7 separate regions of the Homo sapiens genome follow, and regions 1, 2, 4, 5, 6 and 7 are each linked to region 3. Evidence: fine-mapped expression QTL. A gene starts in region 3. Each other region holds a variant in brackets. All regions are shown on one strand. Distances are from middle to middle. Region 1 overlaps LOC101927822 (a long non-coding RNA gene). Region 2 has its middle 420 kb from the start of ZFAT. Region 3 holds the start of ST3GAL1 (ST3 beta-galactoside alpha-2,3-sialyltransferase 1). Region 4 has its middle 11 kb from the start of LINC03024. Region 5 has its middle 440 kb from the start of ZFAT. Region 6 overlaps ST3GAL1 (ST3 beta-galactoside alpha-2,3-sialyltransferase 1). Region 7 overlaps ST3GAL1 (ST3 beta-galactoside alpha-2,3-sialyltransferase 1).

The links. PIP is the estimated chance that this variant, and not a neighbour inherited with it, causes the effect.
Region 1: its variant is fine-mapped to the expression of ST3GAL1 in whole blood (TOPMed, PIP above 0.99).
Region 2: its variant is fine-mapped to the expression of ST3GAL1 in tibial nerve (GTEx, PIP above 0.99).
Region 4: its variant is fine-mapped to the expression of ST3GAL1 in whole blood (TOPMed, PIP above 0.99).
Region 5: its variant is fine-mapped to the expression of ST3GAL1 in unexposed skin (GTEx, PIP above 0.99).
Region 6: its variant is fine-mapped to the expression of ST3GAL1 in whole blood (TOPMed, PIP above 0.99).
Region 7: its variant is fine-mapped to the expression of ST3GAL1 in whole blood (TOPMed, PIP above 0.99).

Annotation. Positions count from the first base shown.
Region 1 is chr8:133,897,579-133,901,644 of GRCh38, reverse strand. It overlaps LOC101927822 (a long non-coding RNA gene), which reads right to left. Exons shown (of 4, transcript NR_125424.1): 2 at 3,957-4,066; 3 at 3,429-3,607. Among named protein-coding and RNA genes, the nearest start is that of LINC03024, 220 kb to the right of the region's middle. RefSeq lists an enhancer at 3,898-4,066. The variant C/AC (reference allele first, on the strand shown) is at 2,098.
Region 2 is chr8:134,288,746-134,292,811 of GRCh38, reverse strand. No RefSeq gene overlaps it. Among named protein-coding and RNA genes, the nearest start is that of ZFAT, 420 kb to the left of the region's middle. The variant T/C (reference allele first, on the strand shown) is at 2,099.
Region 3 is chr8:133,569,827-133,573,892 of GRCh38, reverse strand. It overlaps ST3GAL1 (ST3 beta-galactoside alpha-2,3-sialyltransferase 1), which reads left to right and starts at 2,006. Exons shown (of 10, transcript NM_173344.3): 1 at 2,006-2,200. ST3GAL1-DT (ST3GAL1 divergent transcript) reads right to left here and starts at 3,321. Exons shown (of 2, transcript NR_186509.1): 1 at 3,023-3,321; 2 at 37-2,835. RefSeq lists silencers at 1,257-1,316, 1,507-1,996 and enhancers at 3,787-4,006, 3,366-4,066.
Region 4 is chr8:133,692,688-133,696,753 of GRCh38, reverse strand. No RefSeq gene overlaps it. Among named protein-coding and RNA genes, the nearest start is that of LINC03024, 11 kb to the right of the region's middle. RefSeq lists enhancers at 1-320, 2,453-2,722. The variant G/A (reference allele first, on the strand shown) is at 2,318.
Region 5 is chr8:134,269,117-134,273,182 of GRCh38, reverse strand. No RefSeq gene overlaps it. Among named protein-coding and RNA genes, the nearest start is that of ZFAT, 440 kb to the left of the region's middle. The variant A/G (reference allele first, on the strand shown) is at 1,970.
Region 6 is chr8:133,501,893-133,505,958 of GRCh38, reverse strand. The region is part of intron 2 of ST3GAL1 (ST3 beta-galactoside alpha-2,3-sialyltransferase 1); the gene reads left to right. Among named protein-coding and RNA genes, the nearest start is that of ST3GAL1-DT, 67 kb to the left of the region's middle. RefSeq lists a silencer at 2,870-2,939 and an enhancer at 3,830-4,066. The variant G/A (reference allele first, on the strand shown) is at 2,439.
Region 7 is chr8:133,519,988-133,524,053 of GRCh38, reverse strand. The region is part of intron 2 of ST3GAL1 (ST3 beta-galactoside alpha-2,3-sialyltransferase 1); the gene reads left to right. Among named protein-coding and RNA genes, the nearest start is that of ST3GAL1-DT, 49 kb to the left of the region's middle. RefSeq lists an enhancer at 228-397. The variant C/T (reference allele first, on the strand shown) is at 2,521.

The sequences.
Region 1 (4,066 bases), 330 kb before region 3:
TTATTTGATAGGACAAAAACTGCACTGTGGGTAGCAGACTTTGTCCAAAGCCTGAAAAACAACTAAGGAGTAAAATGATCTTGAATTTATTAGGATCCTCCAGCAATGAAGCGGCAGGGGGTGGAAACTGACCCGTCACAGTAGAGCGGAAGGCATGAGAGATAGATATGCAGGTGCCCCAAAACACGCTTGAAGCTGGTGTATTAACTTCACACATTGTTCGCCATACACAGCCATTCTCACATCCCTGGTGCTGCTGCAACAGGGGTAAGTTTCGGTGGCCACACCATCAGGCATCTTTGATGTGTGAGATGCTGATGATGCTCACCCTGCAAGGAATTCAGAGTGCACCAGGGTGCACAAGGGTCTGGAAATACCTGGGCAGTGGAGGGGCATGCAAGATTAAGACTAGGATAAAGGAGCATTGCAACCATCCCCAGCACAGAAGAAGGCTTTGAAGATTAGGAAATATTTAAACTCAAATTTAAAAAGAGGACTCTGCCCATTGGTCATGTCAGAGAGGATATTCCATGCAAAGGGAATGAAAATTTGAGGATGGGCAGAAATGCAAGTGAGTCTGGCATGTTTCATAAATCCAAGTGGTCTAATAATGTTGAGTCTTCCACTTGCAAGGGTTGGGGAGGAAACACAATGAGGCAGCTAAGCTAGAGAATGTTAAGGGCAGTGTCCACAGAGGGCAGTGGTTTGGCATGGGCTTTCAGAGCCTAAGCAGAGTGAGGAGGGCACCTGCACAAGAGAGAGGGTGGTGATGGTGTGGGATACATATGATTGAAACATATGTGGAGGATTGATCCAATAAGTAATAGTATTAAAGAAAATGGGACCTAGATTTTGCACCGTCAGAGAAGGGAGTGACAAATATAGGAAAGAGAAAGCTAGAATCAACCCTATGGTGCTAAATTAAAATTGGAGTTATCACTGTGAAATAGAAAGAAAAAGAGAGAACTGAGTGGAGAGAGAGAGAGAGAGAGAGAGAGAGAGAAGTATTTTAAGGCAAAACTAATATTAAAATAAATATTAGTTTTACCAGATATTGACACTTCTGCCAGCTGTTTTCTGCTGAAAAATTTCTATTAATTTGTAAAAGTTTATTAGTCCTTTCTTCTGTTGTCTCCAGTTGGTTGTTAAGCCCATCAGTTAATGTTTTACATCAGATATTGTACTTTATAGTTCTAAAATTTTAATTTGGTTCCTTTTTATAATTTACATTGCTCTGTTAAGATTCCACGTCTGTTAATTTATTATCACTACATTTTCCTTTATGTACTCGAACATATTTATAAAGCTGCTTTAAAATTCTTGACCCAACATCTGAGTCATCTTAGGATCAGCTTTCATTAGCTATGTTTGCATAGATTGCATTTTCCTGCTTCTACGTTTGTCTATAAATTTTTATTGTATTCTAGACATTGTGACGCTACATTGAGAGTCTGCATTTTGTTGTTTTTTTCAGAGAATGCTAAGTTTTGTTATTGCGGACAGTTAATTTGCTGGAAGATTAGATTGATCTTTTAAGGCTTGTTGTTAAGCTTTGCTAGAGTCGTTCTAGAGTACTCTTACTCTAGGATGAGAGGAACCCTGCTTCTCAGATGTAGTCTTTCTGGATCTCAGTTGAGGTCTTCTCTCCACTCTGGATTATTGGAACACCTATATTTCTCAGCACTGTGTATCATCAATGATCTCTGCTCATCTTGTAGCTCTCCAGAAGTTGTTTTTGCCAAAGGTTGGGTAGTCTTGCCCTAAACATGTATACTTTAATTGCATCCAGTGCCTTAAGGGGACTGATACATAAATTTCTGGAGCTGCTCTTTTATGCAGCTCTGTTCTCTCTGTCATCCTGAAACTTTGTAAACTTTAAACTCTAATCTCTGCCTCCCCAGTTTAGCAAACCTGCTGTGCTCTGCTTGGATTCCCCTTTCCTAAGCCATGATTCAGGAGTAGCCACAAACATAAAGTCAGGATGATCACATGGTTCACCTCCGCCAGGCATCCCCCTTAATCCAATGCTCTGTGCTGAAATATTTCTGAATCAAAACAAACAGAAGCAACTTGCATGTCTAGTTTTGTTACTGTAAA[C/AC]ATCGAGCCCATTTCACACTTCCCTCCTGTGGGTTTAGGGAGGAGTTAGTTAGGTCAGTCACAAAACGGAAACTTTGAAACTGCTTGCAAAGTTGCCTAATGTATCACAAGGCAATGTGGTAGGTTGGCAGAGCTGGTATCTCTCTAATAGGCTGAAAGTCTCAAAATTAGAACTATAAAATTTGAGTTTAGTTTACTCTAATTCCACTGTCTATGTCCTAGGCACTGCGCTAGCTGCTAGAGGTACAAAGGTGGATGAGATGTGACCACTGCGCTAGCTGCTAGAGGTACAAAGGTGGATGGGATGTGACCAGTGCCCTGAAGGATAGGGTCCTGCAAAGAAAAATGGCAAATGCTGTGATGGAGGTCTGCAGGGCAACTAGGGTGGGAGCACAAAGTGGGGATGACCCATCTAAGCTTAAAGAGGTCAGCAAAGGTGCTAAGAATGTAGAAGAAGGTGATGAGTGAATTGAGGTGTCAAGGAAGTACAGAAGTTGTTCAGGCTGACTGAAGTGGGCAGGGGAAATAGCTGGCGAAAAGAAAAAGAGGTTCAAGCCAGGTGGCAACTTCAGTTACAGACAGCACAACCTATACTATGGCTATGGCATATACTGGCTATACTAAAGTAAATAGAGTATACAAGCTATCGCAATGGGTGCAACACAGGATTATGTCAGGAGATATAGTCAGAGAAACAAGGCTAGCCAAGATCACAACACAACTTCAGGTCCTATTTAGGCTAATAAACACAGGACTGTAGCTATTGGAGCTAGAATAGTACATAAATTAGTGGCAATTATTTATGGTGTGAGGTTCCATCTCCATTCTCCACTATCCAGATCCCGTCTGAAGTTTCTAGTCCTATATAAGACCTTTGAAACCACCAAAAGTGAAGCAGAGAAGGGAGTCAGGGTGGCAAAGGAATTCGAAAGCATTTTCTTCTGGTATGGTCATGGAGACAGGCCTTCCTATCCCCCCTTTGTAAAGGAAACAGCTCTATCCTTGTCCCTAGGCTGTTTTTTCCTAAAGAAAGTTATGGCCAACCATGAGTTCTAACTATCTGACTCAAGGCAGTTAATTCACAGGCTCATTTTGCATTGACGAGCAGGTGTCTTTAGGTTGGGCTCTCTGGGAAACAGGCCCCGAGATGAAAATATCTATGCAGAAGGTTTATCATGGTGCACTGTCAGGATCAGCAACCTAAGTGATAAAGGAAGCAGAATTGGGCAGAGGGCAAGGTTAACTTGCCATACAGTTGAAACAGAGATCTCAGCTGATTCCATGGGGAGTGCAGAAGTTGACAAGGCCCTTCAAAGACCTTTCATACTTACGCAAAGGGCCAGACTTCTGTTCGTCATCTCAATCAGTCATTAGATGCATTTTCTCCAGGGGAAAGAAAAAAAATCCCCCAGCGTGATCCAGCTGTGAGCTGTCAGCTGACAACCCTTCCTCTGGGACATGTGGGTGCTGCATCACTGCTTCCATTGCAGATAACCTGCTCTGGGAAGTTCTGCCCATGGGAGAAATGATAATTAGCCAGACTATTCAGACTCCAGAAATGAGCAGTAACATATGGCAAGGATCAGCCAGGTGATATAAACAACTTGTTTGATAGAAAGCAGGAACCAGGAGAAACAGAATGTGTGAGGAGCATGTTTATCCCCTGAGAGATGGTTGAAGAAACTGGGAATGTTTATCTGGAGGGGCAGAGAAGACTGTGGAGGGATGTGAGGCCCACCTGTAAATAGCTGAAGGGCTGGCAAGTGGAAGAAGGCTCTGGTGTGCTCCTCAGCACCTCAGGGGGTTGCATTTTAGGTGGAGAGGGTCCCAACAGTCAGGGCTCTAAGTTCTGTCCTCACCTGCAAATGGGGCTGCTGCTGACACCACACAGGTCTTTGGTGGGAGGTGGAGCTGAAGGCATTGTCAGGACCGGAGCCTCTGCAGGTATCCTGTTCCCCTAACAGCAGGC
Region 2 (4,066 bases), 720 kb before region 3:
TTCTCTCCAAAGTGAACTGCTTCATTGAGGGGGCATTTAGATGTAGTGTCCTGATGCCAAGACTCCTGTCTGGGCTGAATTTCAAAGAGGATGATTCTCTTATTGTGGTCTTAAAGAGTGTCAAATTTTCTCAGCATGAGGCTTTTAGAATTTGGTACCCAAATGGCCTAAGAAATTCCCTTGTCCCATATAGGTGTTCAGTGGATCCTCTGTTGTTGGTATTGATGAAGGTCAGGCTGCTGCTCCAAGTAGCTGCTGACAGCAGTAAGGTCTACAACTCTGGGTGAAGCTGATGCAGTGACTCCCATTGTGTTTAAACTCAATGCTCCCTCCCTTCCCCTTTTTCCATATATCAAGTTGGATCTAATGTCCTGCTGAATCTACCTCCAATATCTCTTCTGTAACTTCCCCTATTCTTCCTCCCTTCCCTTTGTCGCTGCCTTAATTTAGGTCACCATCATGTCTTGCCTTGAAATAGCCTCTTAGCCAATCTCTCCTCCTTATCTTCCTCTAATCTACTCTGTGCCCTGATGACAAAACTGACTTTATAAAACATAGATCAATTTTTTATCATTCCTATGCTTAAACCCTTCAAAGTTTCTGTGCTATTTATAGATTGCTGTGTCACAAATCATTACAAATTAGTGACTTAAAACAGCTCATGTTCATCATCTCACCGTTATGTGAGGCAGGAACCTGGACACTGCTTTTCTAGAGACCCCTGTGTCAGGGTCTCTCACAAGTCTTCAGTCAAGTTGTCCAGGGCTGGGTCTCCACTAAAAAGTTGACGGGGGAGGGGCCTACTTCCAAGTTCACTCAAATTGTTGGCAACATTCGGCTTTCGGAGAGCTGTTTGAGAGATTATGTTCATTGTTGTTAAGTGGAAACTGCCCTCAGTTCTTTGCCTCATGGGGCTTTCCAACATGGTCTCTTACTTCATCACAGTCAACAAGGAAGAGCCTACTAGCAAGAGGGACATCACAGTTTTCTATTATGAAATTGATATTTCATTGCTTTTTCTGTAATCCGTCAGTTAGAGAAAGGTCATTAGGCCAACCTATATTCAAGAGAGATGATTACATAGGAGGAATTACATAGGCAACTACCAAGAGGTGGGGGTCATGGGGTCCCCCTATAGTCTATCCAACACAGGCCCTCACTGACCATGCAATAAATCCCAGACCCTCAGCTGGGGCAGGAGAACTCATTGGTTAGGAGTAGCAGAGACTGTGGCATCAGACAGAACTGAGTTAGAGTCCTGAATTGGTCATCTGTTGTGCTTAAACCCTCTAGGCCTCTGTTGGTTCATCTGAAAGATGGAAATAGTCATGGCACCTACCTCATAGGATTGTGGTAATGATATAAATGAGAATGTAAGAATTTGTGGAATACCTAATCAGGAACAAAAGCTCAATGATGTTAAGGATTATTTTAATTAGTGTTACCAACAAATTCTCAATAATCAATGTGATTGTTTCCCTTCTAGTTTTATATTTATCCTGCCTGCCTCCTCCCCTCATGCTCCCTTGGACTCCAGCCCTGATGAGTCGCAGCACATTTCCCCAGATGTGCTGGCCTTGTTGACGTGGTGGTATCTTTCCCCATGCTCTTTCCACTAATTAGACTGTCCTTCCTGTCTCCGTCCCTCTTATCCAAGAGTGAATGGAAATATCACGTCTTTTGAAGCCTTTTATGCCCTGAGGATGGATGGGTGCCCCACCCCACAACATGCCCACTGCGGTCTCACAGTGTCCTATACTTTTATCATCTGTGTGTCTGTCTTCTCTAATGATACAGATCCTGTGTCTTTCCTTTTCGGGTCCTAAATACCTATCAGAAGGTCTGGTACCTAGTAAGTGCTCAGTTTGTGTTTTAGGAAAAAATAGAATTATGGTAGAAAAATGTTATATACTTGATATTGGGGAGGTGGATAGGGCTGTTAACATAATTAAAACTGAGAGAAATTAAGCGTTTTATCCAAGGTCACATGGTTAATAAACGGCAGAAGTAGATGCAAACCCAGCTTTGCTGACTGCATATAGGATGCTGTTTTGGGAACAAGTAAGTACTGGGGCCAAAGGGGAATGACGTAGAATAC[T/C]TCTCTAAAGGTCTTTGTGGGAATAAGAAATTTTGTGAAACAAGAGAACTCTTAGAAATCTCAAGGCGTGTTGCTTAATTGTCAATGAGGTGCCTGGTTATTTGGAATAACAAGTGGATGACCTTGGGCCTGAGAACCTTCCATCTGTACTGTTCTGGGAAGTTCTAATGGAGTTCATCTGACGGGACACACGTAATTCATAAAAATAATCATCAGTGTTTCCTATGAATAGCCCTATTGTTTCACTGTTCTGCTGTTGAATGGGAATCAGTAATAAACATGGGAGGCAAGTAAAAGGAAACCAGCCAAGTAGTCTGTTGTATGGATCTCAAGCAGTAAAGCAGAAATTCATGAGATTTTTAAGAAAAAGTAACTAAAAAACTCTGTAGTCAAGTTAACGAAGCTGTGATCTCATGAATGCTTAGGTTAACAAAAGTAATTTCAGTTTTTAGAACACGGCAAAGTTTTTCCTGCTATCATTGGCTTTTAAATGTAATTTCATTGAATTTTTTCTTCGTTACTTTTTCTTATTTCATAAGTAACCTTGTGGCTAACATAAAAACAAACAAAAAATGGAAAAAACATATCTCATCATGCCAGGTAAATAAAACTGTTTGTATTTGTTAATGTTCCCCTTTTGTCTCTACGTTGGTATGCGTCCATCTTTTTGCATTCTTTTAATTCCAATATTGGCATAATTTTTTACTGAGATTTTTAAAGTTAGAATTTTGGTCTTTGAGGATGCATTTGGTGATAGATACAGCTATTCTCACACAAACATATTTAGTGATTTAATATATTATACCTAGTATCCTTAACCAGTGTTCATGGTTCTTATCTCTAGGATGGGAAATGATGGATATAGAAGCCAGTGAGAGCTCAGAATGCAAATGCAGTAAGTAACAGTGCCAAACATAGCCTTCACATTGATGCCACTTGTTGAGTTAGGAGTTAAGTATCTTACATGAATTATTTTATTTAATCCTCATAACAACTTATTAAAGTGGTACTAGCATTGTTGGTGTTCTTACAGATGAGGAAACTGAGGTTCACCAATGCTAAGTAACTTTTCCTAGGTTATTTGTTTAATAAGTGGTAAGATCAGGACTTTGAGGAGGTAGGTCTGACCCAAAGTCCCATTAATTGTCTAATAATTTGCCATAACCCAAGGCAACAAAATTCATGTTCTGTCAATTTCACTCATCCACTTAAATCATTCAATATGGAACTATTGATCACGTGCTACGTGCCAGGCAGTTCCTTTCTGCCTGGAGCTGTCATTTGTCACTTTCTTAGAGAAAGTGTTGCTTTACCTTTGTATTACACGTTACCTTTGTCACTTTCTTAGAGAAAGTGGTTGTTATACCTTTGTATAACAGGTTACTATCTCCTGCCCTCACCATAGGCGAAAGGGCTTGGAGAAGGAAAGGGGACACTTTGAAGATTGGGAAGTTGAAGGGCTATGGATTCTGACACAATATCAATTTAAAGCTATTCTCAGTTTAAAGGAAAAAACAATGAAACAAACAAATAATAGCAACAACCCAGACTGAGAAGCTGAAGACCTTCTTGTGCCCAGGGGTTGTAGATGCACATTTAATAGCTGTGTAACCTTGGACCTCAACCTCTTTGTCCTCTGGGACTTCAATTTTCTTGTCTTTAAAATGGAGATAATACTCTATTGCGGGATCTGGCCAGAGATATTGTGGGATCTGGCCGGCAGCCTGCAATGCAACGGGGCTCTCTCTTTGTTCCCAGGCAGATCGGCAGGTTGAGAAATAATAGACACACACAAGATAGTGAAAGCTGGGTCCGGCGGGGGGTCACCGCCTTCTGGTCCCGCGGTGCCAACAATGCACTGGATATACCAGCATTTATTATTAAGTTTAGTGAGGGCAGGGGTAGGTTAGTGAGGGATTTAGGGTCATTTGATTATGAGGTGAGATGGTCACATGGGGATGAAGTAAT
Region 3 (4,066 bases):
TACATTATTTGATCCATACAATAAACAACACTTTTGTTATTTCATCCAAAAACTCTTTATTGGCCCAGACGATATTCCCAGCCAAAGCTAAAAGTCTGGTGCATGTTAGAAGCTCTTCTTTGCTGGAAGACGCTGCTGGTGGAGGGGACAGTAGCCGATGTAAGCAGAACTCTCTGCCCCCCTCCTCCCATGCACACAAGCAATCTGGAGATGCAGTGAACACCTTGACCTGAGTTTCAGAAAGAGGAAAGCCCACAGGATGTGTCCAGGCAGACAAAAGGGCTCACCCCTTCTCTAGAATTCTATCAAAAACCAAGGGCGTCAGGCAAGAGGTCTCAGAGCAGGTCCCGAAGTACCTAAAAGGCTATTCATCTTTTCCTTCCCTTTCTAGTAGTTATTTTTCTCATTCTCTCTCCTCCCCCTTTTAAAAGCTGGTTTTTCTTCTACTTTTCTCATCTCTGAATATTTCTCCTTTTCTCTCCCAAGTCCCTGAAGTCTTCCCCAACACCCTAGCCCCCATCTTCTAGCACAGGTCATCTTCCTGCTGTGGGCAGGGACCTGACACTGGAGAAACCCACCATCTACACAGCTGACTTACTACATGTCAAAGACAGTTCTAAAGGTTCTATGTGTACGAATTCACTAACTCATCACAACAGCTTTATCAGACAGACACTTCTTAGGTCGGTTCTCACAGATGAGGACACCGAGGCACAGAGTCACCTAGGCTGGGAGGTTCAGTCACTAGCCCAAGCTCACACATCCGTTGAGTGGCAGTGCAGGATTTGAACCAAGAAGTCCGGCCATGCGGGCCCTGGCCTGAATCCCTGTACTACAGCAGCCGTCTGATGAAACAAAGGCTGGGGGACTCTCCCCTTCCACTGCAAAAGGTTGATCTCTCTCCAGCTGGAGCAAGGGGCGCTGGAAGGATGCAATGACCCCAAAGGCAAACTGTGCCTCTTTCCTCTAACATTCCTCCGAAAAGTTGCGAAAGAGGTAGTCTCAGTAAGGGGTTAAGAACCGTAAAACCAGATTTACATGACTTGTGTACTGCATTTAGCATCAAAGCGCTGCACTCTGCCTTTCAGCAAAAGAAGTCTCCACCGCCCCCGCTTCCCTGTAAAAGAGGGAGGGCTGAATAACTGCAAGCCTAATCCGCAAACCCCAAGCTCCAGCCGCAGCCTCCGCATCTGGAAGGAAAAAGCGGCGGCAGGCGAGCCAGGGCAAGGGCTGGGCCAGGGCCGGGGCCGGGACCAGGGCCGGCCGCAGTGCCCGGCTCTGTGGCTCTGAACGCGGTTCTGGCCGCAAGAGTCGTCCAGCCCACGCTCCTCCCTTCCCCCTCCCTAAATCCCACCTCGAGTCCCGCGCCCTTAGAGGAAGTGGGTGGCTCTGCCCGGTCGCCAGCAGGGGATCGGCCCCTTCTCCCCACCGTGCCCCCGACTCGAGTTCTTCTGGGCACTGCCATCCTCTCGGTGCGTGCCCGTCTTCCTGCTGAAACGGACCCCAGTGGCTCCCGGGCCTCCCGGGCGCTCTTCCTTAGCCCCGCCAGCTTGAGGGCCGCGTCCAGAGAGCGGGGAGCTCCTCTCGGGGCGCCGATCAGGTCCCCGCGCCGCAGCCGCCGCCTCCGGCGTCTCCCAGGCTCGGCCTCTGCCGAGCCCGCTGCGGTCCACGTGGCTTGGCAGAGCTAAATTCGGCTTGCAGGAAGCCCGGAGCCAAGGGAAAGCCGAGCCAAGTTGGGGTGGGCGGGGCCGAACGGAGGCGCAGAGTCGGGAGGGGCGGGCACTGGGCGGAGGAAGGGGAGGGCCGCGCGCAGGGGAGGCGGTGGCTGGGCTCTGGCGCGCCCTGGCACCCGGCCCCGGCCGGCCAGGGAAGGCGGCCCCTCCTCGGTCGCCCCGCCTTTCACTCCCGTTACACCCGGGGGAAGGTGTTCCCGAGCCCTCTCCCACCCTCATCCCGCCTCCTCGCTTCCTCGGCTCCAGCCTCCGCCGGCGGAGCCCACTATGCCAGACAGTTTCGACACTTTGCAAAGACAAAGAGCCCTAGACCGGAGGGAGGAGGAGGAGGAAGAAGAGCGGAGAGAGAAGGAAGAGGCGATGTGAGCTGGGAAGGGGGCAAGTGTCCGGGACACCCACACCCCTGTATTCTCCTCCGAACCCCTTCATGCCCAAATCCCGGAAACTCCAGCGTGTCTCCAGCCGTGGTGAGTGCGCGCGCGGAGGCGAACCCTGCTCGGGGTGCGCGGGGGCTGCGTCCGCCTGAGTTGGGGCTCGGGCAGTTTCCTGTGGATTCTCGGAGTGGAAGGTTGATTGTCTGGACCCGGGAACTGAAGGGGTGGGGAGGGGACTAGGAGGGTGTGACAGTGGAGCTGGGACTGAAGACCCCGGGATTCTAGTGGAAGACATTCGAAGGGAGACCCCTTCCTTGGCAGCGGCGACCACCCAGGGCTTTGGGAGAGGAAGAAGGTCGGGGTGGAGGTTCGGGCTTAGGGGTCTTCGGCCGACACTGGAGGAGCTGCCTGGAGCTCTGTGGGGAACCTACGCCAAGTCCCGGGCAGCGGTTCCCGAAAGCAGCCCCAGTGACATTGCACCCGGCGCCGGGCTGGGATCTCCTCCGCTGGGGCCGCCCGTGGGAGGAGACCTCGCTGGGTGGCCGGGCTCAGGCGCTCTCGAGCGGATTTGGGGTCACAGGCTGGGACACCGCGGAGGCCGCCAGTGTTCTGGACGAGCGGCCGTGGGACAGTATCCGGATCGAGTCCCCCAATCCGCTGCAAGCAGGCGCAGATCCGGGAGGTGGCTATCGGCCCCGGGGACGCCGTCAGAGCGCGCTGCTCCGGATCTGGGGGTGAAGTTGACACCCGGGACAAGAGAGCTGAACGCGGCGTGGCGGACAGTGGGGGACGCGGGTGGGCCAAGGAGAGCACGGCCGGAGTCGTGTTAGTGGCAACTCGAAACTCTGAATCCGCCCCAACCCCGTGAGGCGTCGCAGCTCCCAAGAAATAATCTGACAAAAGTTAGCAACTTGCCTGTGTCTCTCGTGTGTGTGACCTGCGTGGGGGCAGGGCCACCCCTTCTGGGAGCGCACGGGGACGGACAGCGGTGACCCTGGGGCGAGGCGCTCTGGTGAGGGTACAGTTAGTTTGGAATCGGGACGGTGGCGCAACTTTCCGCTCCTCCTTTCTCTGCGCGAGTGTTTAAGCGTGACCTTGCGGGAGGAAGCGCGGCTGAACTTGAGATGGGGGTTGAGCTTGCGCCCCGGCTTGGCACAGAGACGTCGGAGCGCGCATTAGCCTGGCCTTGCAGCCGGGTCTCCCAGGAAGCGTGTGGGGATCGTCTGGCTCTGCTCGTCAGCTGGAGCCCTGACTCGCTCCTCCCTCCTACGCTAGGGTCCTCGGCGGCCGTACCATGCGCGGGGCTCGGTGGTGTGTTGGGCGAGGGGACACGTGCGCACCCAGAAGCGCGCAAGGGGGTGGGGGTTGGGCAGGTCACTGCGTCTCGCGGGCTGGGCGAGTCCCGCAGAGGGAGTCAGCCGTGACCCTGAGGGCAGTGACTGGCTCGCCGCGTCCCTGCATCAGGCATTCGCCCGGCTTTCTCGTGATTGTTTCCGGGCACCCCTGGCCTCTCCCGACTTCTCCCCCTCGCGGGTCCCCAAGCCCCGCAAGTTTGCGACGAGCTGGTTCTCCAGGGAGACAGCGAGCGCCCACCCCCGCTCTGCGGCTGGGTGTGTGTGGTGAGAGGAAGAGACGGGAGGAGGAGGCGAGGCCGACTCGCCAACGAGGAAAACGGGGTGAGAGGGGAGCCGGGTTTTCCAATAGTCGCCAGGGCGCCTGGCACGTCGTAGGTGCTAACGCAGTGTTCATTGACAAGGCCCCAAGGTGGAAGGTGCTGGCAGGGGCCCGGACGCCCCCTTCTTCCCTTCCAGTCTCTAAAATGGAGTTCAAATGTATCGACCAAGCCCTTTAGGCTTCTAGACGTGCCTGGAGCACCTACTACGTGCGGGGGCTCTACTCCTGGCCTGTTCGTAGAAGCTGCGGGCGGAGCCTCCTGATTTTCTTTACCCCGCGCTGCCC
Region 4 (4,066 bases), 120 kb before region 3:
AAACGAGGCTCAGGAGGTTAATGAGTCTCCTGAAGTCGCCTAGTAGGCTGGGAGCAGAGACAGGGCTTAGCCCCTTGCTTTCTAAATCGGTATTCCTTCCATTACTCCGCATCCTTTCCTGGAGTCATTATGTAAAATTCTGCTTCACAATCTGATGCTCTGAGCTTCCCAGGGCCAGGCCACTTCCATAAATGCCTTGCTAGTAGTTGTTTCTAAGGAACTGTCTTGATCTGCCCCTCTGTGAGACCTCAGTAGGGCTGGAGATGCACATGTGTGTACATCAATGCACTTGTGCACACACAAATGCACTCATGTGTGCACACAGGGGCATGCAAAGCATGTAAACTCACATATGCGTGCACACACACTTCAATATCTGTGCATTCCCTCCACTTCTGTATCTCTGGTAAAGCAAATTCTCCAGCCTTCTCCCGCAAGTGGGTGATTCATTACACCCCCCAGCAGTCATCAAGGGAGGTGCGGCCACACTTCGAAGAAATCACCTAAAGACGGGTAACCTGGCATGTGTGATTTCTTCTTAGCAGATAACATCTTCCAGGGGCCTGAGGCACTCAGATGAGATGTCACCTTCTCCAAAGAAAAAACGCATTTTGCACACGTTTCGGATTTTAGTTTACCAGCACTGGCCAATGAATGACTTTGGATTCTAATAACACTCTCATCTTCATACACTCTGAGGGCAGCCAGTCAAAGCAAGCCTGGTGCCTTGCAGGGCCTGGAAACAGACCAGACAAGATTTAAATGACCTCTCAGAATATCAGAAAAGGCCCTGCTAGACCTCACCCCCACTTTCCAGTGCATTGTGAATCTTTACACTTACCCTTTAAGTTATGTTTCAAAGAAAGCACACACATGCTTAGGGTCAATTTCACAGTCTTGCCAATGCTCTTAATGAGGTGAGTGGATAATGAAGGCAGTTCATGCAGTCAATGCCCCCTCGACTTCAAAGCCAAGAACTAGACCTAGCTGCTCCATCTACCAGCTGCGTCTCCTTGGCTTTATCGCTTAACCCCCAAACCACATCCACAAAATGGAAATCACAATCCAGTTTTCACATTTGGCCTGAAGACAAAGTGACACTTTATATAAATGTGGCTTTCAAACTCTAACTCCAATGTCCCTTTCAGGAACTATTGTGATGAGGCGCAGGTAGGCTAGAGCATGAGCTGCTCAAATACCCCACAGGCAGAAGCAACAGGTATGTCCTGGGACTCCAGCTTTGTGTCTGGGGCTGCACCTTCCCTCCAGGTCCACAACTGAGAGCCAGTGAATCCTTGGAATCTGGTTCTGCCACAAGTTTGCTGAGTGACTCTAGGCGAGTGACCCACCGTTGACCTCAGTTTCTTCATCTTCTGTAAAATGCTATCTGTCCTACCTACCTGTCCTTCCAAGTTCTGTGGTTGGAATTAAAGACTCCAGCCTGGAAAAGTGTCAGCCTACTGGATAAGGTCTCTCATGGCTCACACTTGCCTCCATCCCAGCTGCCACTGCACTGGTTTGGGGCCTCTGCCTGGGCTTCGTGTCCGGACTACCCCCCTCAGCCTCCCACCCTCACCCCATCATCCCTCAGGAATGGTGAAGCAGTCCATCAGAGGTCTAAATTCTCGCGCGTCATTTCCGAACTCAGAAAACACTACAGGCCCTCAAAAATGTGAAGGAAAACCTCATCAGCATCAGAACCACATCGTATAGTGGGGAAAAGTGCAGAATCTTGAGGCTGCCTGGGTTCAAATCCCATTTTCATCACTTACCAGCTGTGTGACTTTGGGCAAGTTCATTATCATCTCTGTACCTTACTTTCTTTACCTATAAAGTGAAGATGATGCTGATGAAGGCAAGAGTACCTACTTAATGGGAGATTTTGTGCAGATTATATGAAGTGCTGATCAGTGGCCCATTGCGAATCCTCAGTAAGTAGTATTCTCATCGTGACAGAATCTTTCATGTCACGCTTTCTAGTGGCAAAGACAACACTGCATCCAAGATCAAATAAACAAACGACATTTATCCATAAAATTGCAGCAAGGGAGGTAGCCTGCTGTCGCCTTCATTTCAGCAGGGCTTCAAAGGTGTTAGAAAGGAGAGTCAGTTTTATAGAATAAAAACAGGAAATGCTGAGACAATCTTGGATTGACAAGTATACTATTAAGGCGGGATTTTTAGCTGCGAGGAAACATCCTAATAGGTCCTCAGGTAGATTCAGCTGCCCTTAGCTGCAAAGGCAGGCAAGCAGCTCCTCAGTTTCAAAAGAGGAAGGATTGTTCAATATTAGGGCTAAGGGTTTCTGTGGCTAACC[G/A]TTTCCTGAAACAGGTCGGGGGTAGATGGGGTGCTTTTTTTGTGGTCAAACTGTCATAATGCATAATCACTGGTGTGGGGGTCACCAAGACAGGCACTTTTCACCCTCCCCCAGGCCCTCTGTCCCAAAAGAGTATCTGCAATGTGGCCACAGGGCCCCCAGTAGCTGCCCTCCACTCTCCAGCTCTCCCTGTCACCTGTATCTCCCCACCACTGCCCATTCTGCTCTTCCACCTACCTGGATTCCCAGGCTTCCCTGAAACCCCATGAGCCATCCCACACTGAGGGCTTCCACAGCACCAGCCCCACTCCACCCTGACCCAGTTATCCCTTGGGGATGCCTTTCCTGACATTCTGCCCCAGGGAGACCTCCTCTAAGGATGCCTCTGCCCTTGGTCTGGGATTGGCCAATCTATACTCCTAGCACTGGTTCTGCTTCTCACCTTGCCCCCATGATACCATGTGTGTGCATCTTTACCTATCACGTCTTATCTTCTGCACTTCAGCTTCTGGGGGAAAGACCTTCTCACACCTCTGCAAGGTTCAGTGTCTAGCATGGTATATTTTTAAGAGATGTTGACGGAATATAGGAATGTGTTCATGCATGAATGACTGATGTGGTTTCCATGGTGGGTCTCAAAGGTGAGTAGAACTTTACCAAGGAGAGGTGGACAGTAGAAAATAAGCCCCAGTGCATAGGGATTTAGTCTGCTTTGCTCACCTCCTATTCCAGGGCCTAGAATGGCTTCAGCATATTTGACTCTCGACAAGTATGTATTGGATTGGACAAATGACAGGAAGCCACTCTTCTCCTCCTTTCTCAGATACTAAGTAAATGAAGAGGCTTAGCCCACAGAGAGATTTCAGCAGTGATGCTTGTCACAGGGTAGTGTTTCTTCTCTGCATCCGTGAAAGCCTCCCAATCACCAAAGCTTGGAGCCCCAGGCAACTCTAAGAACATGCCAAGACTTCATCCAGACTAGAACCTGTGTTCTCAAAGCATCAACCATGTTTATAACATTCCCAGATTCTTTCTGAAATTCCCAAGGAAATGGCCCTTGGATTCCCTTCAACCTGATGCGCCTCCCACTTTATCTGAGTTTCATGAATTCGGGCTGAGTCCTCTCACTTCCCAAGGCATGAGTCCTGGGAGCCCTGGGTACTAGGGAGCATGTGTGTCTGTGTGAGAGAGATGGGGTTGGTATGGAGAGAGAACAAAATGAGTCACTACTGAGGAATGAAACACTGTGGTTATTAGTGTAAAATATTCAAATCTCACACTCTTAATTTGTCACAAACCTTTCTCCTTGAGGTCTGACATTTTGAAATATACATATTTTTTCCATTTGTTAAATTGGCCCTTTGGCATAGTAGCCTTTAAGTTTTACTTCAATGGTATCACCCCAAAATCTGCTTCTACAACTGTGGCCACTTCCCCTCTTACATCTTCCCAGTATGCTCACCTAATGTCCATTTAAGTATTCACATTTGTCAGACCACGGCCTTTTGATGTTTTGCTTTTGGTTCAGAAATGTGATTCCTGTCACTGCAACCAGTTTCTCAGTCTTGCCAACTGGCCACCTTACCAAGTAAATTGTCCTCTCGTCATTCCTTTAGAACCACTTCTGCTAGATTTCATCGTATTTTGTAAAATTACCTTTTATAGTCATGTGATATGCAAACTACGCATGGTTCTGGGTAATCCAACTGCTTTGTAATGATGATAATGAAGATGAAGATAGTAATGATG
Region 5 (4,066 bases), 700 kb before region 3:
TAAGAGGCTTTGTAGTATTTGTTGTTGACTCCCCAGAAAACTTTCTGATCAAGGAAGGTTAAGCTTATTAAGATGATTTTTTATTTTATTTTATTTTGTTTTATTATTATTATACTTTAAGTTTTAGAGTACATGTGCACAATGTGCAGGTTAGTTGCCTATGTATACATGTGCCATGCTGGTGTGCTGCACCCATTAACTCGTCATTTAGCATTAGGTGTATCTCCCCTCTCCCCCCACCCCACAACAGTCCCCAGAGTGTGATGTTCCCCTTCCTGTGTCCATGTGTTCTCATTGTTCAATCCCCACCTATGAGTGAGAATATGCGGTGTTTGGTTTTTTGTTCTTGCGACGTCACCTCAACAGTCTCATAGTATCTTCAAAATAAGAAATGAAGAGAGTGGATTAGTAGTATTTCAAAGTAGGTGACTTCTACTGTGGTTTCAGTCTTCACTATCTCTTGAGTGGTAGGGAACTGGTTGCAAGGTGGGGAACTAGTTAAGATTGAGCAGAGTTTATAATGTGAACACTTGATTTCTGTGCATGGCAAAGCAGGTGAGGGTGTTGATGTGCGTATTGATGCTGTTAGCCCTGATACGTAAGCTGATCAATTAAGACATAGCCTTATTTTTTAAGAGAAGATATTTTTTGGAAATGAAGACAAATTATTTTTGTTTGATCTCAATATTGCCTGGCACAAAACAGGAAAATATGCTTTGTCCCAGAATTATTTAGCACAGAAACAGAAAAATATGTCGGTTCAATCCCCAGTAGGTTACGACAGACAGGGGCAGTACCTTACAACATGCTGCAGTGAAGCCCATTGTACTTGATATTCATTCTTTTATTCATTCATCTACTTCACCTTCTTTATTTTATACACTTATTTTCCTTCATTAAGCAAATGTTTATTGAGAATTATAGATTAAAATAATTGTGTCCTGAGATTCTAGGCAAGGAGCTGATCATTAAGAAGTAAGAGAATGAGAAATGGGGTCCTACCATAATGACAGAAAGGAGTGAGCAGACTGCAAATGAATGACTGCAATGCTGCAAAAGACATTCTTATTTTTCAAAGTGACGTCCATGGACCACCTGCAGGAATATCACCTAGGCTGCATTTTTAGCATTTAGATTCCTGAGTGCCAGTCCACATGTGCTGAGTCAGAATTTCTGGGGATGGGGCTCAGGAATATACATGTGCATAGTCTTTCCCAGTATCCTCATGCTCACTTACCTTTGAGAACTACTGGTCAACACGATGAGAAATTCTCTGCCTGTCGAGATCATAATAAATTCAAACATATCCCCAGTGAGATGCAAACAATTACCACAGGAGTTAACAAGTATTACTAAATAGGAGAAGTGTAAGGATGAAAGGGCATTTCAGAGCTCAGAGTGCATCTTGGTTTGCCATGTCCTTGGAATATCAGAATATTAGAGGTTTATTTTCTTCCTCTTGTTCACATTGAGATGAGACTTTGTTTTATAATTATTTCCATAGACCATATAATTCTCACAGAAATCCACCATGGGACAGGATGTCCTGACACTCCCGGATGCCTAATCAAATGTGCATGGGAAATGTGACATTTCTCACTGAGGTTAAAATTAACTGGAACAGCCTGTAAGATCTCTTTTTAATCTAACTTCAAGAAAATCTTTTTTACATGGAATAATTTAAAATTTTTAAATGTGCATGTTTTAAGCTTCTGTTGAGCATTTCATTTTCTTCTCCAAATTACATAATTCTAGAGCCCTTTTCAAGTTATTATCGACTGGGCCATTGTCTAAAGACTGAGCTTGAAATGCAGCTAAACTACTGCACGGCAGAACACCGAAAGTCCCAGACTAGAAACATGTAGCTCTGAATTCTGGTCTCACTGTCTCACTAACCAGCAGGGGGGTCTTGGGTAAGTTTCTTTACATATCAAACTTACTTTTTCCTCACTTTTCTTTAGCAAAGATC[A/G]TGACTCCTCCCTCAGGATTGTGGTAGGTTGTTTTCTTTTCCCCCCCTTTGAGACGGAGTTTTGCTCTTGTTGCCAAGGCTGGAATGCAATGGCACAATCTCGGCTCACTTCAGTCTCCGCCTCCCAGGTTCAAGTGATTCTCCTGCCTCAGCCTCCCAAGTAACTGGGATTACAGGCACCCACCACCACACCCGGCTAATTTTTTGTATTTTTAGTAGAAATGGGGTTTCAACATGTTGGCCAGGCTGGTCTCGAACTCCTGGCCTCAGGTGATCTGCCTACCTCAGCCTCCCAAAGTGCTGAGATTACAGGCCTGAGCCACTGTGCCCGGCCAGGATTATGGTAGTCCTTAAATGAGATAATGTGTGTGATGTTTCTGGTTTTGTATTTGACACTAAATACATGATTAATAAATATTGATGCTCTTGCAAGATAGGTGCCTTTCTTTATGTATCCACATAATTTTGAGTTGGGAGTTCATGGCCATAGAAAACTTACTGATTAAAATTCTTTGCTGTTTTGATGGGTTTGGCAGTTTTGATGGTCACTAGATGGGTGAGTGGTCTGGTGCAATATTTCTCAAAACAAGATGACCTAGGGATCTTACTGAAATGCACAGCCCTAAGCTAGGGCCTGAGCTTCTGTAGTTCTGAAAAGGCCCCAGGTGCTGCCAGGGCTGCTAATCATGGAGCACACTTTGGGGACCTAAGGTCAAAGGAAGAGCCTGGCTAAGCCTGTGACAGATAATGGGAAGATGCTCAGCCACCCCATTCTGCTCTGGATAGTCAGGGGCACTAGGATCTTTTGCCATACGGACCATGTGGCTGCTATCTGCTCAATGGGATACAGGAGACAGTGGTGGATGCCTGACTGTCATAAGATGTCCTATGATTCTCCTCCTTCTGTCTCTTGGCTTATCAGCAGGCTGTATATAAATCAAACAATGGAGGATTCTCAGGAGAGTGTAGAGGATGGGAGAGCCACAGATAGAAGGAGCTGTGATCCCGGAACCACTATTTAGAAAACCACTTGCTACTTGGAATGCCTAGTTAGACAATGACCCAAATAAGAAATAAACCTTGCTTGTGTTAATCCACTGAGATTTTGGTTGTTACAACAGCTGGCATAAATTGACTAATACCATAACGGTGCTAAGCTATTCCTTTAGTCCTTGGGGTGGGATACCTGGGAACTTCAGCGTGTATCTTGTCCAGTTTCAGGGAGTCCCATCTATTAATTCCATTGTGCCAGACAAATGTTAACATTTTTTGTGTGTGCCATAACTTGACAAAGTTGAGAAGCATTCTAAATGAAAAGAGTCCAGACTCAAGTGTTAGGAAAATCTGGCATTCCATTTTGAGCACTGTTGCTGTTTCATACATCACCTCTCTCAATTTCCATTGCCTCCATTTTCTCAAGTGTCCTGCTACACTTGGTGTGAATATTTCATAAGCCAAATGCTGGAAAACTTCAGTAGCTTGGTAGTGTTAAGGGAGAGTAGATTGGGGATGATTTTTTTGGTGGAGCAGAAGAACTTCAGCCATAGGCAGAGCATAGTGGATGGCAGCGGCCAAAGAACAACCAAAAGACTCATTGCTGGTTTCACAAATGAGGGCTGGAACTCATTCTGATAAATCAACTGGGTGTCATGGAATATTTATGCGTGCCTGCTCCTTGCCATCACTTCATTCAGCTAATGCGCCTCCACTTACAACCCAGCTCCCTGGGCCTGCACACACTTCTGTCTCTGTCTTCTTACCATGACAAGCAAGGTTGTGGGCTACATTTGGTATGAAATTTTTCAATTCTCCTTGAATGTTCTGGGATAATGGATTTTCTTCTTGACCATCAGATACCCCAGCATTTAGCTGAGTTTTCGATGCTGTCCTTGAGGGTAGAATCATTCTGGGACTGTGTTTCAAAGGCAGAAGCATATTTCACAGAAATCATAACATCATAGACTCACAGCACGGGAAGCTTCAGGCCTCTGTGTTTGACCTCTTCATTTTTACAGATGAGACGCCAGGAGGGAAAGACTCCTTCCCAAATTAGTTTTATAATTGGGACTAGGCCATCTCTCGGTTAATCACAGAATG
Region 6 (4,066 bases), 68 kb after region 3:
TGAGTGCAACTGAGGACTTGTATTTTAAATTTAAAATATAAGTTTAATTAGAAATAGCAGGTGAGTGCAGTGGCTCACGCCTGTAATTCCAGCACTTTGGGAGGCCGAGGTGGGTGGATTGTGGGGTCAGGAGTTCGAGACTAGCCTGGCCAATATAGTGAAACCCTGTCTCCACTAAAAATACAAAAATTAGCCAGGCATGGTGGCACACACCTGTAATCCCAGCTACTCAGGAGACTGAGGCAGGAGACTCGCTTGAACCCAGGAGGTGGAGATTGCAGTGAGCCAAGATTGCACCACCGCACTCCACCCTGGGCGACAAGAGTGAAACTTCGTCTCAAAAAAAAAAAGAAAAGAAAAGAAAGAAAAGAAATAGCCACGTGAGGCTAGTAGATATAAAGAACTGTGACAGACCTGAGATGTCAACCTATTTGCAAGCCAACAAATTAGCTCGTTGGCAGATGCTGACAAAAGATAGCAGCTTCCTGGATCAGAGCCAAAAGACTTTACTCCAGCACGGCAGGCAGCCTTAAGTTTCATGTTTACATCATTTCTACTTGTACCCCAAGACCCACGGGCTTGCTTCATAGATGAGGAACCACAATCTTTTATTATAATGGGCTGCAAGTGAACCTACTCAACTTCTCTCTTGGAGGGAGGCATTATCTTTATGATACTGGAGAGTAAGCACACCTGAGCCCTGCTCTGGAAGGAGACACTATCTCTATGTTCCAGGCTCTGTGCCTCCTTAAAAAGGTAGTTCAGAAAAGAAGGCTGTCAGTGCTTCTGCTTGCAAGACACACAGAAGTGCAAGAGACCCATGAAGAATTGTCTGTCAACCATGGATCCTGCATTGGATACTGCAACTCCAAATTGTCTGCAGTGCCTGTTCTGGGATGTTTCACATGTACTACATCATTGACCACCCCCAGGTGTCTGCAGAGTTAGCCCGTCTTTTCTGTTTAGCAGATGAAGAAACTGAGGCTCACTCTCACCCAACTTCCTGAACTTCGAGATCGTGGATTCTCCTCCCCATTACCAACTCTTTCTACTTCCCCCTAGATCCCCCGAAAAAACAAAAATCTGGAATGTTTGTCCTCCTCACTCCTTTTCAAAACTTTACCCTCCAAGACTAGAATTCCTTTTCTCTTCTGCCTTGTCATCTTCTTCCCATTTTCCAGAAGAGTTGCCAGTCTGACCTCCTCTCCGAAGCCTTCCCTGCCCAGCCCAACCTATGCTGAATTCCCCTGTCTCTTCTCGACCATAGAAGGTCCTATCTCATACTCTTGAGTGGAAGCTCTTGAGGGCAGAGCCTGTACCTTCCTGTGGCCACTCTCCCCCAGCATGGCCTATCTCAGGACTTGGGGGAAAAACAAACTAACAAATAAGGACTCAAAAAACCAAACCAGAAACAAGCAGCTATTATTTTATGCCTGGGATTGACTTCCCACTTCACTACCCACTTTCAGTTCCAGGCCCCAGGCAGTGGGTGAATGGGCTTGATTCTTTCCCAGAAACGGGAGATGTTTTGAAATGACTCAAAGAAAAGCTGATTGGATTGGATTGAGTTTTGGTAAATCCACCCACAAGAGCAGAGAAACTTGACATTTGCCTTCCAAGCCAGCAAAAGGGATGAATCTCATTTCCTTCTAACTGAGCAGGAGGCCCAGCGATGGAATGATGACTGAGCAGGTCTCAGGAGACTGGGTTCTAGTCCAAGTTCTGAGGCTGGCTGGCTCCATGACCTTGGGGAAGGCACTGCCCTTTTCCAGGCCTTAGTTTCTCATCTATGATGCAGGACTGGAGGAGGGGGAGAGGAGTCAGACTCTCCAGATGCCCTCCCTCCCCACCTTCCATGCTGGGCTTCAGTGATCCTCCAGGCTGGGAAAGCCCAGCCTTCACAGGAACCCAGTGAAGTTCTGCTCCTCCCAGCCTCCTTTCTGCCACCTCCCTGAGCAGGACCAGCCTCCCCTCCTCTCCATGTACAGTGTAGACATCCCACACTGCCTGGCTGAGGGAGCACCTACTGTAAGGCTGTGCTGAAAGAGCAGCACTTGATTCTAATCCAGACTCCTCTATCTTCAGCCCTAATGCATCACCTCATCGTAAACATAATTCACAGTGCTGCCATCTCTGCCTTTCAAGGTGGGCAGTGCATGTTTTTTTCTCCACTCTCGTTCAGTTATTTTTAGGAAATGCCATGTAGTTCCATATACTTGACATGTACCTGCTTTCACTACATCTGGAGATATTCAGGAAAGTCCTTGTTAACGATAAGGCCTAGGGTGGAGCTGCGACGTACTTGCCATTTGTAAAAGCCAGGCAGAAGAGTCCATGCGGGTTAGACACAGATAAGGAAAAACAATTGATCAAAGAACAATTGGCCCAGCTAGGGTGGAGTTTCTTAAGGCAGCCAGGAAGTGGGGGGCTGGACGGAG[G/A]GAGGAAGGAAAGGAAGGAGGGAGGGCCTTCAAGGAGGGGTGGCGGAGATGGGGCGGAGGGGGAGCAGACAGTGGATCCTAATTGTTACAGGCACTGAATCCTTACAACAGCCCCAGAATGTAAGGATGCTTATTATCCCTGTTTTGCAGATGAGAAAACTAAAGTTCAGAGATGAAATGGCTTATCCATGGCCACTGAGCTGCAAAATGGCAGAGCCTGAGTGGAAGTCGGCTCTCCTGACTATCTACTCAGTTCTTACAAATCAAACGTTTGTTGGGGGGCGTTAGAATACTTGCAAAAGGAACTCTGTGTTTGTCAGCTTTGCTGCATAACAAAATCTTCCAAGCTCAGTGACTTGCAACAGGTGTTTATTTCTTGTTCGTTACAAGTGAAAATGCTGTGGGTAACCTGCAGGTCAGCTGTGGCTCAGCAATGCTCTGTGAATTTTCTCAGTTTAAGGTCCAGGGTGAAGGTAGTCGCTAACCAGGACATGCTGTCCTCTAACCAGAACTGAAAGAACTACTTAGTCAGATTTCAGCTTTCTGCTCAGAGATGGCACATACCAGAACTGCACACACTCTGTCAACCAAAGCAAGTGACATGGCCAAGCCCAATGTCAGTGGAGCAGGGAGGTATACTGTCTGTCCTCCCACAGTGAGAGGTGGAGGCTGCTAGAAGGGGAATAAATAGTTGCATAATGCAGTTGGCCACACTGGGCTCTGCAGACAGATGCCTGGGTCTGACTCCTATCTCTGTCACTTAATAGTTGTAGTCATATGGCCTTCAGCAAAGTGCTTGACCACACTGTGCCTCAGCTTCCTCAACTGCAAAATGGGGATGATAATTATAGTCCTGCATTAATTTGCTAGAACTACCATAACAAAATATCACAAACTCGGTAGCTTAAACGACAGAAATTTATTTTCTCACAGATCTGGAAGCTGGAAGCCCAAGATCAAGGTGTCATCAGGGTTGGTTTCTGATGAGGGCTCTCTTTCTGGCTTGCAAATGGCAGCCTTCTAATTTGTCCTCACATGGCTTTCTTATGTGCATATGGTGAGAGTGCTTTCTGGCACCTCTTTTTTTTTTTTTTATAAGGACATCAATTCTAGCAGATTAGGGCCCCACCATTATGACCTCATTTAACCTTATTACCTTCCTAAAGGCCTTATCTCCAAATACAGTCATCTTGAGGGTTAAGGCATCAACATATGAATTTGGTGGGGGTGTGGGGGACGGTTCATTCCATAGCAAGGGCCAATTCTGCAGGGCTCTTGTGATGATTTAAATGGGTTAGGACAGCGTCTGGCCTACAGGCAAGCACTGAATAAGAGCTAAGCTGCTCTTAGTACCCCAGGGATAGCAGGCCTCACATTATCATATTGGCTATTCCCTGCACTGATAATGCCTCATTTGCTTTCTTTGTCCTTTGGCAACCTCTCCCAATTCCTGGCATAAATGAGGTGACCAGGAAATGGATGCTTGAGTCCCCCGGTGAATCCTGAGGCAGTTGACAGAAGGCACGCAGGGTTTGAGGTGCCCTGGGCTGCACTCCCTGCTGTGTTGCTGACCTGCTTGGAGACTTTGGCCAAGCCACCATCTTCTGCCAGCCAGGATGCACCTCATT
Region 7 (4,066 bases), 50 kb after region 3:
ATTCAGATTTCATAGGTCTGTGGGTCACATGTGGTGGTTCTGGCTTAGTCTTTGAGTTGAGTTGGCCCTGACTGGAGGGTCACAGGCTGCCTGAAGCATGTTTTTCTCATAATGGAGGTCAGAAGCTCCCCGAAGGACACAAAGCTCTTATGATTATGGTTCTGAACTGGCATCTTGACACTTCTTCCCACATTCCATTGGCTAAAGCGTGTCACAACATCCAGTGGGTGAAAAAATACACTCCCACTTCGAGAGACGAGGACGAGGGATAGAGACCCTTGTGGCTCCCATACCCAGCCTTCTGCCAGTCCGTTTGTACTTGTTCTCCAGCAAGAAGCTCAACAGACATTTGTCAATTGGTCATAAATCTGGTACCTAGGAATGGTGCTGACCTCTTGCAGGCCTCCAGGGAGGTCCTGAGAGTCCCATGAGAGTCGACTTTGCTTTGTCACAGAGCAGGACAAGTGGCCATTCCATCTGCAATAAGACCCTTCTAAATGCTCTGCAGGAACTCCTGATGCATCCTTCCAGTGCCCCTTTGAAGTAGCTGCCACTTTAAGCATCACCATCTTCACTTTACAGAGGAGGAAATGAAGGCACAGGGAGGTTGAGTTACTTGCCTGAGGGTGCCCAGCAAAGTGGGCAGAGCCAGATTGAGGCTCAGGTGGTTTGGCTGTGGAATCTCTGTACTGCTTCTAAGGGTGGAGAAAGCAACAGCTGCACACCTTTGTGACTTGTGCTAGGACAGAGGTGTGCATGGGGGTGTGGCAGTGTCTGTGAATTGAGACCTGGACCCTCCAGTCTCCCATGTTCTCTGTGGTGTTTGGGAGATTAGCAACCCCCCACAGAAGAGTTAGGACCCACTTCCCCTGCTCCCAGAAGCCACGCAACTCCCCTCTCAGCAGGGCAGAAGGGAGAGGCCCCTTGCTGCTCGCCAGGGCCCTGGGCCAGGTGGGAGTGACAGAGCGCAGCCCCATCTGTTTGAAATTAGAAGTGAATTGAGCACAGTTGTCCAGAAACTCCATGAAGTTTAGAAACACCGTGCTGAATGTCTCCCCCAGCAAGGCTGTCTCTTCTTGAGAGATTTCATCCCTGTCTCTTCCCCACAGTGCTCATTTTCTTAGCACCTTCTCTGCCCTAGGCTCTAGGGACAGAGACAGTGAGATGAGCCCCTTCCCTCGCCTGGTGAGGGTGTTGGGAGCACACCAGGAGGCCAGAGAAGGATTGTACTCCAGGGAGGATAGTGGTGGCAAAATAACGACAGTAATTAGTGTGTCCATTTAGTGTGTGCTTGTGGAGTGTCACGTGCTTAACACTGTGCCCCTTAGGCCAGTGTTATGTTTGTCTTCAGTTTTTGGATGAAACCCAGGCTCTCAGGGGTTAACTAGCAAGACCCTGCGGCCACCAGGTGACTCTGCTGGATATGAACGTAGGCTTTTCTGTGCCAGCGCCTCAGCACCCTGGACCAGCTGGGGTACAGGGTAAAGTACTCTGAGAGTCAGATCAGAAGGCTTAAGGTCCCACTTACTGCTCTGCCCCACACAGGCTGTGTGGCCTCAGGCAAGTCAGTTGACCTCTCTGAGCCTCAGACCCTCAGCTATGACTTGGAATTGCAACACATTTCCAGAGGGGTAGAGATCAAACCACACTGTGCCTGTGATGGGGCTTTGAATTAAAGCAGGGAACCTTCTGTGCCTGGAGAGCCTCAGCATCTAGGGGCAGTGTCCTGAGCCACCATTCCAGGGAAGCCATTTGCAATTTTTTTTAGATTTTTAAAAAATGTTGCTGGGTCTGCGTTTTTCCACATCCTCTGAACTTTCCTTCCTGCTAGCTTTCTATATTGCTTCCTACTTTTTCTCTGCTTTGGGTATAAGCTTCTAGGAATAGAATTTTAAATCTTAGATGGCTTCCCCATTCTATATAGCTCTTGGGAGTGCTCACGTCAAAGACTTCTGGGAGGCTTTCTGCCCAGAGTTGGGCTGCTGGAGAAGATTATAAAGGCACCACCATTTTTAAGGTTTTTGTTTTGTTTTGTTTGGAAGTTTGGAAGTTTCATTCAGAAAAGTAACCCATGACCACTGAAACAAATCCTGAAAACAGAGAAAAGTATAAAAGCTCAAAACAGAAACAGAAAATCCTACAGAAACCACTCTCCCAGAAAGTACCTATCTTAGTAGTTCATACTGTTTTCTTTCACGGCATTTTGGTTCCTCTAGGTTAACATATACTAAAATTGGAATTATAATTCTGAAATGCTTTTCTCTTTTCGTTTCCAATTTAACAGTGTAGTAGATATTCCTCCGTGTTATTTAAAATTCTTCATGATCATTATTAATGATTGAAAACTTCTGTCCTGTAACAGATATTTTAACATATCATGGTTTAATTAATAATTTCCTTAATGTGGAGCATGCAGGAGGAGCTCTCTACATTTTGCTATTAAAAATAACATGATAGGCCTGGGGGCGGTGTTTCACGCCTGTAATTCCAGCACTTTGGGAGGCCGAGGTGGGTGGATCA[C/T]GAGGTCAGGAGTTTGAGACGAGCCTGGCCAAGATAATGAAACCCCGTCTCTAATAAAAATACAAAAATTAGCTGGGCACGGTGGCAGGCGCCTGTAATCCCAGCTACTCAGGAGGCTGAGGCAGGAGAATTGCTTGAACCCAAGAGATGGAGGTTACAGTGAGCGGAGATCACGCCACTGCACTCTAGCCTGGGCAATAGAGCAAGATTCCGTCTCAAAAAACCCCCAAAAATTAGCTGGGTGTGGTGGCACACACCTGTAATCCCAGCTACTTGGGAGGCTGAGGCAGGAAAATTGCTTGAACCCAGGAAGCGGAGGTTGCAGTGAGCCAAGATTGCACCACTGCACTCTAGCCTGGGCAACAGAGCAAGACTGTCTCAAAAAAAAAAAAAAACAACCCACAAAAACAAAAATTAGCTGGGTGTGGTGGTGCACACCTGTAATCCCAGCTACTTGGGAGGCTGAGGCAGGAAAATTGCTTGAACCCAGGAAGCGGAGGTTGCAGTGAGCCAAGATTGCACCACTGCACTCTAGCCTGGGCAACAGAGCAAGACTGTCTCAAAAAAAAAAAAAAACAACCCACAAAAACAAAAATTAGCTGGGTGTGGTGGTGCACACCTGTAATCCCAGCTACTCAGGAGGCTGAGGCACAAGAATTGCCTGAACCTGGGAGGCAGAGGTTGCAGTGAGCTGGAATCGCACCATAGCACTTTAGCCTGGACGACAAAGTGAGACTCTGTCAAAAAAAAAAAAAAAAAACCCACAAAAAATAACATGATAAACATCTTTGGGCACAAAACTGCACATTGAGCCATTTCCTGGAATAGACTCCGAAAAGGGGAATTACGTATGCAGTAGAAGGAAAGAGCACTTTTTGAGGCTTTTGATACCTCAAGCAAATGTCCTTTTGTTCTAGACTGGAGGCTATGGTGGGGTGGGCTGCCAGAGACCCTGCTTCCCTGCAGGGGATTCATGTTTCTGCTGAACAGGGGTCCAAACCCATGAGCTCCTGGCTCAGGAAAGGTCCTAGGTGGGCCCATACCCAACAGCTTTTCACAGTGACTTGTGAGAAGCTCTAGGAGTCCTGATGATCTAAATTGTTTCAGTTGAAAGTGGAACAACTAGGAGCATTTTGAAGGCAGAAGTGTCAAGACGCAGAAACTTCTGTGGTGCCAGAAGAGGGGGCTGCCTCCAGCAAGATGGAATTCACCACGGAATATATACCAAGCAGCGTGTGGGCAGGTGTTGTGCACACCACACCCCGCTGCGAGTTGTCCCCGGCTCCAGCCTCTCTATGTTCCTCCCTATCAGCTGACCTCTACACACTCATTTCTTTGCATAGTCTCTGCCTCCCCTAGAATTTCAGCTCCCTTCATCTGTTTTGTTCCCTGCTGTAGACTTAGCCCCCACAAACGTTACCTGGCCCATTGCAGCTGCTCAGTAAATATGCGTGGGCTGAAAGAATGATGAGTGGGGAAGATTGTAAAGACCTGCACAGAGGTCCCAAAATATGATGCTTGTAAGTAAGAATCCTTGCCCGCATTC